Regions from separate parts of the Homo sapiens genome. Here region 1 is linked to region 2. The links come from fine-mapping of genetic effects on gene expression. A gene starts in region 2. The other region holds a variant in brackets. All regions are shown on one strand. Distances are between the middles of the regions. Region 1 overlaps TSC1 (TSC complex subunit 1). Region 2 holds the start of TSC1 (TSC complex subunit 1).

Region 1 (5,000 bases), 38 kb after region 2:
ATTAAAAACAATAAAAACTAAAAAATTTTAAAAGTTGAGTGTTCTGTATTAAGCAGTAACCATTATTAATTTTATTAAATCTTAGCCCTTGAGAACATGTATGTGTAATATTCTTCGTGGCAAAATAGAAAATATGCATAAGGCACATGTACTGCATACCAGGGTATGATGGTGACCTCTGGCCCTCATGCAGTTATTTGAATTGAGAGGTGAAGTAGCTGCCTTTTTTCATGGAATGCCAGTTTTATTTGAAAGAACTGCTGTCTTACAAACTGGTTATTCAGACTTGGGTGTTTGGCAGGCAGCTTCTCAAATGATGAGCTGAGTCTGTCACTTCAAGATAAACAACTGACAGTATTTGTTGCCAACAATAAAAGTCAACTCTCAGGTGGAAATCAAGATATTAAAAAACGTGTATATACTACCATGAACTTGATAGCTGCCCCAGGACTTTTATGATGAGACCGAAAAGTCTGTGGAAGCTTAGTTAGTAATTTGAGTTTTTGATATTGTATAATGAAGTGTTTCAACATTTGGAATATTTGAATAGCTTGAGGAGCCAATATTTTCAGAGTGTCCAATGTATGATACGTTGCAGAATCATGCATAGGTAAAAAGTACATTCAAAGTACAAAGCAGGCTGGGCGCAGTGGCTTACACCTGTAACCCAGCACTTTGGGAGGCTGAAGCAGGTGGATCACTTGAGGTCAGCAGTTGAAGACCAGCCTGGCCTACATGTTGAAACACCATCTCTACTAAATATAGACATTAGCCGGGTATGGTGGCAGGCACCTGTAATCCCAGCTACTTGGGAGGCTGAGGCGGGAGAATCACTTGAACCCAGGAGGCGGAGGTTGCAGTAAGTCGAGATCACACCACTGCATTCCAGCCCCAGCCTGGGCAACAGGGCAAGACTGTCACAAAAAAAAAAAAAAAAAGTGCAAGGTAGACTAGTGGGTTTTAACACAGGAAAAGCTCATTGATGTGGTTTCAAATTTCACTTTGTAACTTTAAGAAACTAACACTTATCAAATTTTGGTGTAATAACAAAGATGATTATTTGAAAAGTCTGTCAACATACGTTTACTTTTTGCGGCTGGGCGTGGTGGCTTGCTTCTGTATCCAGCACTCTGGGAGTCCAAGGGAGGTAGATTGCTTGAGCCCAGGCGTTCAAGACCAGCCTGGGCAACATGCAAAACCCCATCTCAACTAAAAAAAAAAAAAAAGCCAGGTGTGGTGATGTGCATCTGTAGTCCCAGCTAATCGGGGAGCTGATGGAGAACGGCTTGAGCCCAGGAGGCAGAGATTGCAGTGAGCCATGATCACGCCACTGCATTCCAGCCTAGGTGACAGAGCCAGACCCTGTCTCAAAAAGAAAAACAACAACACATATGTTTACTTTTGCAATTACATATCTGTGGGGCCCCAGATTTTCTTTATACACTTCAGTCAAAATAACATATTGCAACAGACTGAATGTAGAGGTAGATATGAGAATCCAGCTGTCTTTCATGAAGCCATATATTAAAGAGATGGCAAAAATGTTCCATTCTTCTCACTAAATTTATTTTTATTTCGGGAAATATAGTTTTTTAATAAGAATATGTAATTTACATTAACTTGTAATGGGCTTGCTATTTTTAAGGGAATTAATATTTTAAAAATTTCCTGGTTTTCTAATATAATAATTATGCCTCGTAAAAGCTCTTGGGATTCTCCAACTTTCTCATTATTATTATTATTTTGTGTGTGTGAGACAGGGTCTCACTCTGTCGCCCAGGCTGGAGTGCAGTGGCACAATTGCAGCTCTCTGCAGCCTTGACCTCCCTGGCTCAGGTGGTCCTCCCACCTCAGCCTCCTGGGTAGTTGGGACTACAAGCACCAGTCACCATGCCCGGCTACTTTTTAAATTTTTTGTAGAGATGGGGTTTTGCCATGTTCCCCAGGCTAGTCTCAAACTGCTGAGCTCAAGGGATCCACTGGCCTTGGCCTCCCAAAGTGCTGGGACTACAGGCGTGGGCCACCACGCCCAGTCTGCAGCCATTTTTTAAGACTATAAAGAAAGCTGCTGGGCGTGGTCCCAGCACTTTGGGAGGCCGAGGCAGGCAGATCATCTGAGGTTGGGAGTTCGTGACCAGCCTGACCAATGTGGAGAAACCCCGTCTGTACTAAAAATACAAAAATTAGCCAGGCGTGGTGGTGCATTTCTGTAATCCCAGCTACTCTGGAGGCTGAGGCAGGAGAATCGCTTGAACCCAGGAGGCGGAGGTTGCAGTGAGCCGAGATTGTGCCATTGCACTCCAGCCTGGGCAACAAGAGCGAAACTCCACCTCAAAAAAAAAGAAAAGAAAACATCCCAACAATTTGAGAATCACTGCACTCGGCTGACCTTTAAACTACTTTACAATATGCTCGAGAACATGTGCAACATTTTTCGTCTTGTGATATAAATGATACTTATCTTTTCAGGAAGAGAGAATGGATTCTGCAAGACCATGTCTACACAGACAACACCATCTTCTGAATGACAGAGGATCAGGTAAAATTTCTGCGTTACTACAGGCCTTGCTTGCCTCTTCTAATTGGGTTATATGTGTTTAAGAAAAGAAAGTTAAATGGAAACAAGGAAATTCTGGGATATCCAAAATACTGAGGCCTAAACATAATGAAACGAGTAGTGAATTCTAAACACCAACCTAATAATATCAAAAACAGTTTTTAAGCTATTGCAGTGAAGTACCTGTATTCTGACTTGACTATATCTCTTTTCAGAGACATTAAGAACTGAGAATTTTATTTGCTATGGGATTATTTTTGGTACTTTTAGTTATATTATTTTTAATATTTCAGTCTTTTGTA[GTAT/T]CCCCAGGACAGAGCCATGTCCAGCCTTCTCTGTTCAGCATGAAGAGTTATTACAGACATATTCTATACAGTGTAAGCAGTTTTACACTTACAGGGATTACACTGTATTTCTTTGACTTCAGTTGTCTTTGTTTCTCTTCAGAAGAGCCACCTGGCAGCAAAGGTTCTGTCACTCTAAGTGATCTTCCAGGGTTTTTAGGTGATCTGGCCTCTGAAGAAGATAGTATTGAAAAAGATAAAGAAGAAGGTAATGTATGTGGGATTGCTATGAGTTGATAAAACCTGACCCTCGCTCTGCTATAAATCTGGGATTTTGTGCCATTGCTCACAGGCTTGCTGGATTTTTCTTCTCTTGAGGTAACAAGATGGGTGGTTTAGTCTGGGACCTATGCCAGGTAAAGTGATGCCACTTTTTTTTTTTTTTTTTTTGAGACAGGGTCTTGCTCTGTCACCCTGGCTGGAGTGCAGTGGTACGATCATGGCTCACTGCAGCCTTGACCTCCCAGGCTCAAGCAATCCGCCCACCTCAGCCTCCTGAGTAGCTGGGACCACAGGCATACACCACGATGCTCAGCTGATTTTTATTGTATTTTTTGTAGAGATGGGATCTCCCTATGTTGTCCAGGCTGGTCTCTAACTCCTGGGCTCAAGTGATCCTCCCTCCTCAGCCTCCCAAAGTTCTGGCATTACAGGCGTGAGCCACTGTGTCCAGCCGGATGCCACTTTTTCTCCTCTCTCTGAGTGACACTGGCATGTGGCAGCATGCCACCCAAACTGCCTAGTCTTTCCCAGGTGGAATACCGACTGCCATTTCTTTTGTTTCCTCTCTTCCTCTCAGCTGCAATATCTAGAGAACTTTCTGAGATCACCACAGCAGAGGCAGAGCCTGTGGTTCCTCGAGGAGGCTTTGACTCTCCCTTTTACCGAGACAGTCTCCCAGGTTCTCAGCGGAAGACCCACTCGGCAGCCTCCAGTTCTCAGGGCGCCAGCGTGAACCCTGAGCCTTTACACTCCTCCCTGGACAAGCTTGGGCCTGACACACCAAAGCAAGCCTTTACTCCCATAGACCTGCCCTGCGGCAGTGCTGATGAAAGCCCTGCGGGAGACAGGGAATGCCAGACTTCTTTGGAGACCAGTATCTTCACTCCCAGTCCTTGTAAAATTCCACCTCCGACGAGAGTGGGCTTTGGAAGCGGGCAGCCTCCCCCGTATGATCATCTTTTTGAGGTGGCATTGCCAAAGACAGCCCATCATTTTGTCATCAGGAAGACTGAGGAGCTGTTAAAGAAAGCAAAAGGAAACACAGAGGAAGATGGTGTGCCCTCTACCTCCCCAATGGAAGTGCTGGACAGACTGATACAGCAGGGAGCAGACGCGCACAGCAAGGAGCTGAACAAGTAAGGGACTGGGGCACTCTCTTCTGTGTTAAATGGTCCATTTTATTGTGAAGTACAGAAAGTGTAAGAGAGGAACAAGAATCATTCTTCACACTCCCACCTTGAGGCAGCTGGTTCTCTGCTGTTTGTCAGATGTCCTTCTAGGCTGTTGCATCTTCATATATGTGACCATGTGTGACCTCTGTGCACCTAAATTGGGATGATTCCTTAGCAGTCCATTTCAAAATGAGTCTTTTTATATAGGCCATTTTATGCCTCTGTTCTATGAGGACACTCAAATGCTTTCATATGTGCCCTCTGCAAGCTGTAGGCTGAAAATGAGGTTATGGTATTTCAAAGAATATAAGAATATTTGTCACAGTGTTTCCCTCTCTAGCTACAGATTATTATTATTATTTTCTATTTTGGTATCATAGTTCATTAGGTGGAGATAAAATCATCAGCATTTTATGCAAGTTCAGATGGCCTGACATCCCCTCCAGACCCCCTGAGGCACCCAAGTTTTCATAGAAAGGACTCTAGCTGAGAAACGGTTTCCCATCCGTCTTTTATTAGCTACTTTACAGGTGCTTGGGGAATATTTTTATTTTTCTTCTTATATACTATGCTATGGTGGAATTTGACAGGGATTATAGTATTTAAGCTCCCTCTTTTTAAACGAGATTTGGTATGATAGGCTTAGGTAAATTACCTACTTTTTCCTTAAATCGGAGTGACATAGCTTTACAACAGAGTGTACTC
Region 2 (5,521 bases):
GAGTGTTCAAACTGTTCAAATACGGCAAACGCCGAGCTGCAACCAATCTCACTGTTTCTGTACCTCACTTCTGATTCCTGTATGTCACTTTAGTTTAGTTTTTTTTTTTTTTTTTTTTTGGAGACCAAGTCTCTCTTTGTTACCCAGGCTGGAATGCAGTGGCACAATCTCAGCTCACTACAACCTCTGCCTCCCAGGTTCAAGTGATTCTCCTGCCTCAGCCTCCTGAGTAGCTTGGATTATAGGTACCCGCCACCACGCCTGGCTAATTTTTGTATTTTTAGTAGAGACAGGGTTTCACCATGTTGGCCAGGCTGGTCTCGAACTCCTGACCTCAAGCCATCTACCTGCCTTGGCCTCCCAAATTGCTAGGATTACAGAAGTGAGCTACTGCGCCAGGCCACTTTACTTTGTCTATAAATTTGTTCTGACCCCGGGAGTCTCTCTGAATCTGTTGATTCTAGAGGCTGCCTGATTCATGAATTCTCTTTTTCTTTCTTTTTTTTTTTTTTTTTTGCTCGATTAAATTTAATCTAATTGAACTTGTCTTAAGCTTTCTTTTAACAAGCTCCATGATGGGCATCTCAGATTGGCCAGGCCTGGTCCACCTGCTGTGGCCTGGGGCTGGTACTGTGATTGTGAGGACCATCAGCACTGAAAGAATTGAGGATGGGCGGTTCACCTGTTCAGAAGGCGAGGGGGAGATGTCACACAGCCAAATGCAGCAGATGTCCTCCACCACGTGCATCCTGTCAGCACGCCCGCCTATGGAGGGCTCAGCCCTTTCATGCTCAGACAGGCCGGTCAGGAAGCCCCGTCACAGGGAGGCTCCAGGGTGGTGTATGGAAGGTAGTGGTCTGAATAGTGTCTGTTGAGCAAATGACAAAAATCAACCCCAGAGAAGCAGAAAACATCTAGGTGGCCCAGCCTGGTAAGTGGCAGGAGATGGTAGTAGAGCTGTCTCTGCCTGTCACCTTCAGCCTCTTCTTGCAAGCCCCTGGTGGTCCCATATTGAGGTAACAATGCCCATTCTTCTTCCAGACAGTGTAGAAACAGTGACAATGTGGTTATGGCCCCCTGGAAAGTGAGCAGTTGATGAGCTCTGCTTATGGCTGCTCTCCTCCATGGCAGAATGCATTCCTGCAGGATGAGGTCATGGAGCCAAGGAAGGTCAGGGTGTGGGGGGGCTTCCTGGGTCAGAGCTCCAGAGCAGTGCTGCTCCCCCTGCCCTCCTCCTTAGGTCTCCCATCACTGGTGGTCTCAGAAATCTCTGAAGATTTCAGAAATCTTGAATCCCTTCCCTGGTGTGAATGCAAAGGGAAGAGTCTGTTCCTGTAAAGTAGTTTGCAGATTGGTGGAACTGAGAGAACCCAGACCCTTCCCCGTTTCCCTCGACCTTTCCATCTCTGGACCCCATGCAGACTATGCTTGGGTGGTGACACAGAAGAATTTAGTGTTTGGTGGACCCGTTTCTGGAAGTGATGGATGCTGACAGCTGGCACTTAACAGTTATCAAAAATAACATTAACTGGAGTAGGCTCTGTGCCACTTAGAGCTTAATGACTCACTGACTTCACCCCAAATCCCCATGAACTAGCATTATTATTAGCCCTATGTTGCAGGTGAGGAGACTAAGGCTCATCCAGTTAGAACATGATGGCTGAAACCTACATTCAAACTCTGGTCTGTTTGAATCTAGAACTCTTAGCTTCCCCCCAGCGACTGTGTTAGAACAGAGGAATCATCAGTTCAATTTTCACCTCCCTCCTAAGCCTTCGTGGCTCTAGACGTATGGTTATAAAGGTTGTTCACTGCTCAAGGGCCCAGGAGGGTTTGGGGCTGGTGGATAGGGGCCAAAATACAGCCCAGGGGTGCCATTTTTCTAATTCTCACCAAGGCCCTATACTGACTAGCAGCGGCTCTACCCGATACCATCCAGGGCCTTTTCAGAATTCTGAAGGCACCCACGGTGCTGGCTACTCACACACCTGGCCCCCCTTAACCATGGCTGCCTTGCACTGTGACCCAATTGGTTCCCATGACAAAACCTGTTATTCCCATAACTCACCCAACACTTTTTTGCCCCTAGGCTCTTGCTCCTTTGGTTCCCTCTGCCTGGAATGGCCTTCTCTCCCGAGCCGCCTCGCCTGGTTCTATTAGGTTGATGCAAAAGTCATCGCGGTTTTAATGGTAAAAACCGTGATGACTTTTGCACCGACCTAGTATTTCACAAAACCTACATTTCCTTTAAAACCCAACCTGATGCCTACTCCTTCAAAATGCCTTTCATATCCCACAGTTCGACTTCATCTCACTCTGCCTCCTCTCACAGGGCTTTGTGTTCGTGCTGGATGGAGCCCATCATACTCAGCCTCGCAATAAAGGCCACCTATCTAGTGAGTGAGCATTTACTAGGCGCAGGACTCTGGGCTAAACGCTGTCCATACTTCATCTCCTTGATTCTTCACGTCACAGATGTCATTATGCCCATTTCACAGAGGAAGAAACTGAGGCTTGGAGGACTTAAAGCCTTGTTTCAGCAGGAAACGGAATAAGGCGTTCTGATTTTCAAGCTGTCTCCTATTAGGGCTGGTTTCCCCTAGATGTCATGAGTAGGTGTGAAGTGTGAGCTACTTGAAGGCAGAAGCCAGGGGGGTCCCCCGCAATCCCGGAGGCGGGCTTCTGAAAATGTTTAGCCCAGGAAGGAGGGCTGCCCTGGCCCGCAGCTTTCCGCCCCTTCCCAGGTGAGCTGCAACTCCAAAGCTCCCAAGCAGGCCCTTCACCCACGCGGGCCCCAGCAGCTCCTTGGGAAACAGGATCGCTGCTCTGAGGCCGCCCACAGAGAGACCCTCGGAGGGCGCCACGCAAGCGAAGGGCAGAAACGACTCGGGGGGCAGGGGCAGGGCGCTCCAACCACACCCAGGCGCCGCCAGCTTGTTTACGCCTCTCCGCCGCGTCCCCCCGCCCGCCAGTCACGTGACCGCCCGCCCCGCCCCCTCGGGCTCTCGCGTGGCTCCTCCCGCCGCGCCGGCCCTTCTTTTTGCCTCCTTCGCGGAGTCACAAGATCTCTTCGCAGCCTCCTTTCGGATCCTTCCGCCCGGCCCCGCCCCCCTCCATAAAAACCCTCCTTACTTTTTTTCTCGTCCAACCCACATCGTCAGTTATGAGTGGAAGAGCCTCTTCCTTCCGGCGGGGCTGCCGAGCGCGGCCGTCTATCCTTCCTTTCGAGAAGGAGGGGAGGTCCGGAGGGGGACTCTTTTTCGTGGCGGAGGCCGCCGTCGGCCTTGGCCCTTTCACGACGGGGGAGGTGCTGTACGTCCAAGATGGCGGCGCCCTGTAGGCTGGAGGGACTGTGAGGTAAACAGCTGAGGGGGAGGAGACGGTGGGTGAGTATGGGGGTGTCTCCCCCTCCTTTTTATGGGGGCTTCCTGGGGCAGCCCCGGCACCATGACTCCAGCCGGGGAGGCTCGGAGGGGCTGGAGCAAGAGACTCACTTGCTTGGTAGGGATCCCGGGGAAGGGGGGTTCGGAGAGCTCTCCCCTCCCTCTTATTACACGCTATCTCCGGCTGGCCCGGCCGGGACTGGCGGGTCCCTGGGGAGGAGAGGCGAGCCGGACGGAGCACTTCGCCCCTCCTTGGCCCCCGAGGGGACGGCTGCACCCTGGGCCTCGGTCCCTCGGGCAGGGGCGAGGTGGGCCCCTTCGTCAGTCCCTCACTTGGTGGGGTGACAGGTTCACGCTAGGTGCGGAGGGCAGGGTAGAGACGCTTGGCGGGAGGGGAAGGGTCGCGAGGGTGGGGCTGGTCCCAGAACTTAAAGAGAGGGGTCGGGGTATAGGGGCGTGGAGAATGAATGGAGGTCGCCTGTGGGGATCAAGGACTCGCCTGGATTCGGTGTCTCCGCTGAAATTTGCATGACTCGCTCTGGGTGTACTTGTGGGTGTTTAATTGGTGGTGAAAGACAGTTACCTTAAAGTGGGCAAAGGGGATTCCTAAGAGACAGCTATTTGCAGAGCCCCTCCTAGGCGTTCATTCATTCATTTGAGGAACTGGAGGATGAAGAGCCTGCAATCGGAGGGACCTTGTAGAATTAAAGCTCTTTCTTTGTGTTTCCTGTTAAAGAGTTTTGCTTTGTGTGTTTTGGATGTGTGGTGAGGACTTGGGAGGGGACGCGGTCCTCCTAAGAACAACAGCTAACGTTAATGGAGTGCTCTCTGTGTGCCAGGCACTGTGAAAGTGCTTGGCAGTCATTATCTCCTTTGGTCCTCACGACAAAGAGAAGAGGCAGCCACTGTTAACACCTCCAATCTTCTCAAATGAAGAAACTGAGGCCCGGAGAGAGCAGGGTACTTTGCCTAAGTTCACACCCCAATTGTATCTGAGCCAGGACTGGAACTGCTGGGATCTGACTGACTCCAAAGATATGACTCTTAAATTTATCTGTTATTTGATCAAAGCTGGCCTGTAAGTGATTAAAATTTATCATTTAGCCAAGGTTTATGCACGTGTGTCTGTTTAATGTTGAAGTGGGGGGATGCACTTGGCTTATCCGCCTTAGCTTTTGTTTGGGATGGCAGTGTTGTGCATGTGAACTTGTTAGTCTAAATTAGGCTAAAAAGTATTTGATAGTTTAATAAAACTGATGAGTTTACTGAAGAAAGAAGTCCTGCTAAAATCCTTGCTGGCTTTTTTTTTTTTTTAAATAGAAAGCATACAAATAACACTTCACGTTGCATAGAGTAAGCTATAAAAGTGCTAAAATAGAATAATACTCTTCTGAGATACTTTGATTTATAATTTTGGGATCAACTTGGAGTCATCTGAATTCAAACAGGCCGGCAAAGTGGAGCTGTAAATTTCAGGAAGCATTATAAAACCTAATCTTTGGGGAGCCTTTGATTTACCGAGCAACCACCTGTGATTCTTAAATTGAACATTCCTGAGTAAATCTGGAATATGCAAATGTGAAAACTGATTTAGGGTTGTGTAGGGAAATGCACCTTTAACAGTCATGCATCAGGCAAATGAGGCTCCTCAGAAACAGTGAAACATTCTTTGCTATTGCCCTAGGGAGCTGCAGAATCTTCCTCTAACCACCTGGTGTAAACTTAAGGGGTATTTATAGAAGATGTAAACGGAAAATATCCTCTTACTAAAGTTAATATCTTATCCAAAACACTCTTATATCACGTGCCTAGAAGGGCAGATGATGTAAACTTTCTCTGCTGCATGCATTTCCTGGTGTCATAAACACTTGGTACGTTCCTAAATTCCTGGTTAGAAAGCAGGTGGCTACCAGCCTTCTTGTTTCCATAAAATTAGAGTGCTTCAGGTCCTGTGACTCAGTTGTCCTCTTCCTCACTGGGTTAAGAGTAAAAACTGATACTGCTACTGTTGTGGTGTAATATGATGCCTTCTGTGCATGCCTGGTTTCATTCGTGAGATGAAACTTAACAGTCTTACTAGGGCAAATCTAATATATACCTCTATATGTAATGTTTGCAGAATAATGAACTTGGTGGAA

Evidence for each region.
Region 1: its variant is fine-mapped to the expression of TSC1 in whole blood (TOPMed, PIP above 0.99).

What each region holds. Positions count from the first base shown.
Region 1 is chr9:132,904,840-132,909,839 of GRCh38, reverse strand. It overlaps TSC1 (TSC complex subunit 1), which reads left to right. Exons shown (of 23, transcript NM_000368.5): 13 at 2,470-2,539; 14 at 3,005-3,109; 15 at 3,701-4,259. Among named protein-coding and RNA genes, the nearest start is that of SPACA9, 28 kb to the right of the region's middle. The variant GTAT/T (reference allele first, on the strand shown) is at 2,860.
Region 2 is chr9:132,942,408-132,947,928 of GRCh38, reverse strand. TSC1 (TSC complex subunit 1) reads left to right here and starts at 3,313. Exons shown (of 23, transcript NM_000368.5): 1 at 3,313-3,386. It overlaps MIR548AW (microRNA 548aw), which reads right to left and starts at 2,222; the gene lies at 2,158-2,222. It also overlaps a transcript of GFI1B not described here. RefSeq lists enhancers at 2,596-2,735, 3,096-3,395, 2,708-3,441 and silencers at 2,916-2,995, 3,526-3,585, 3,646-3,705.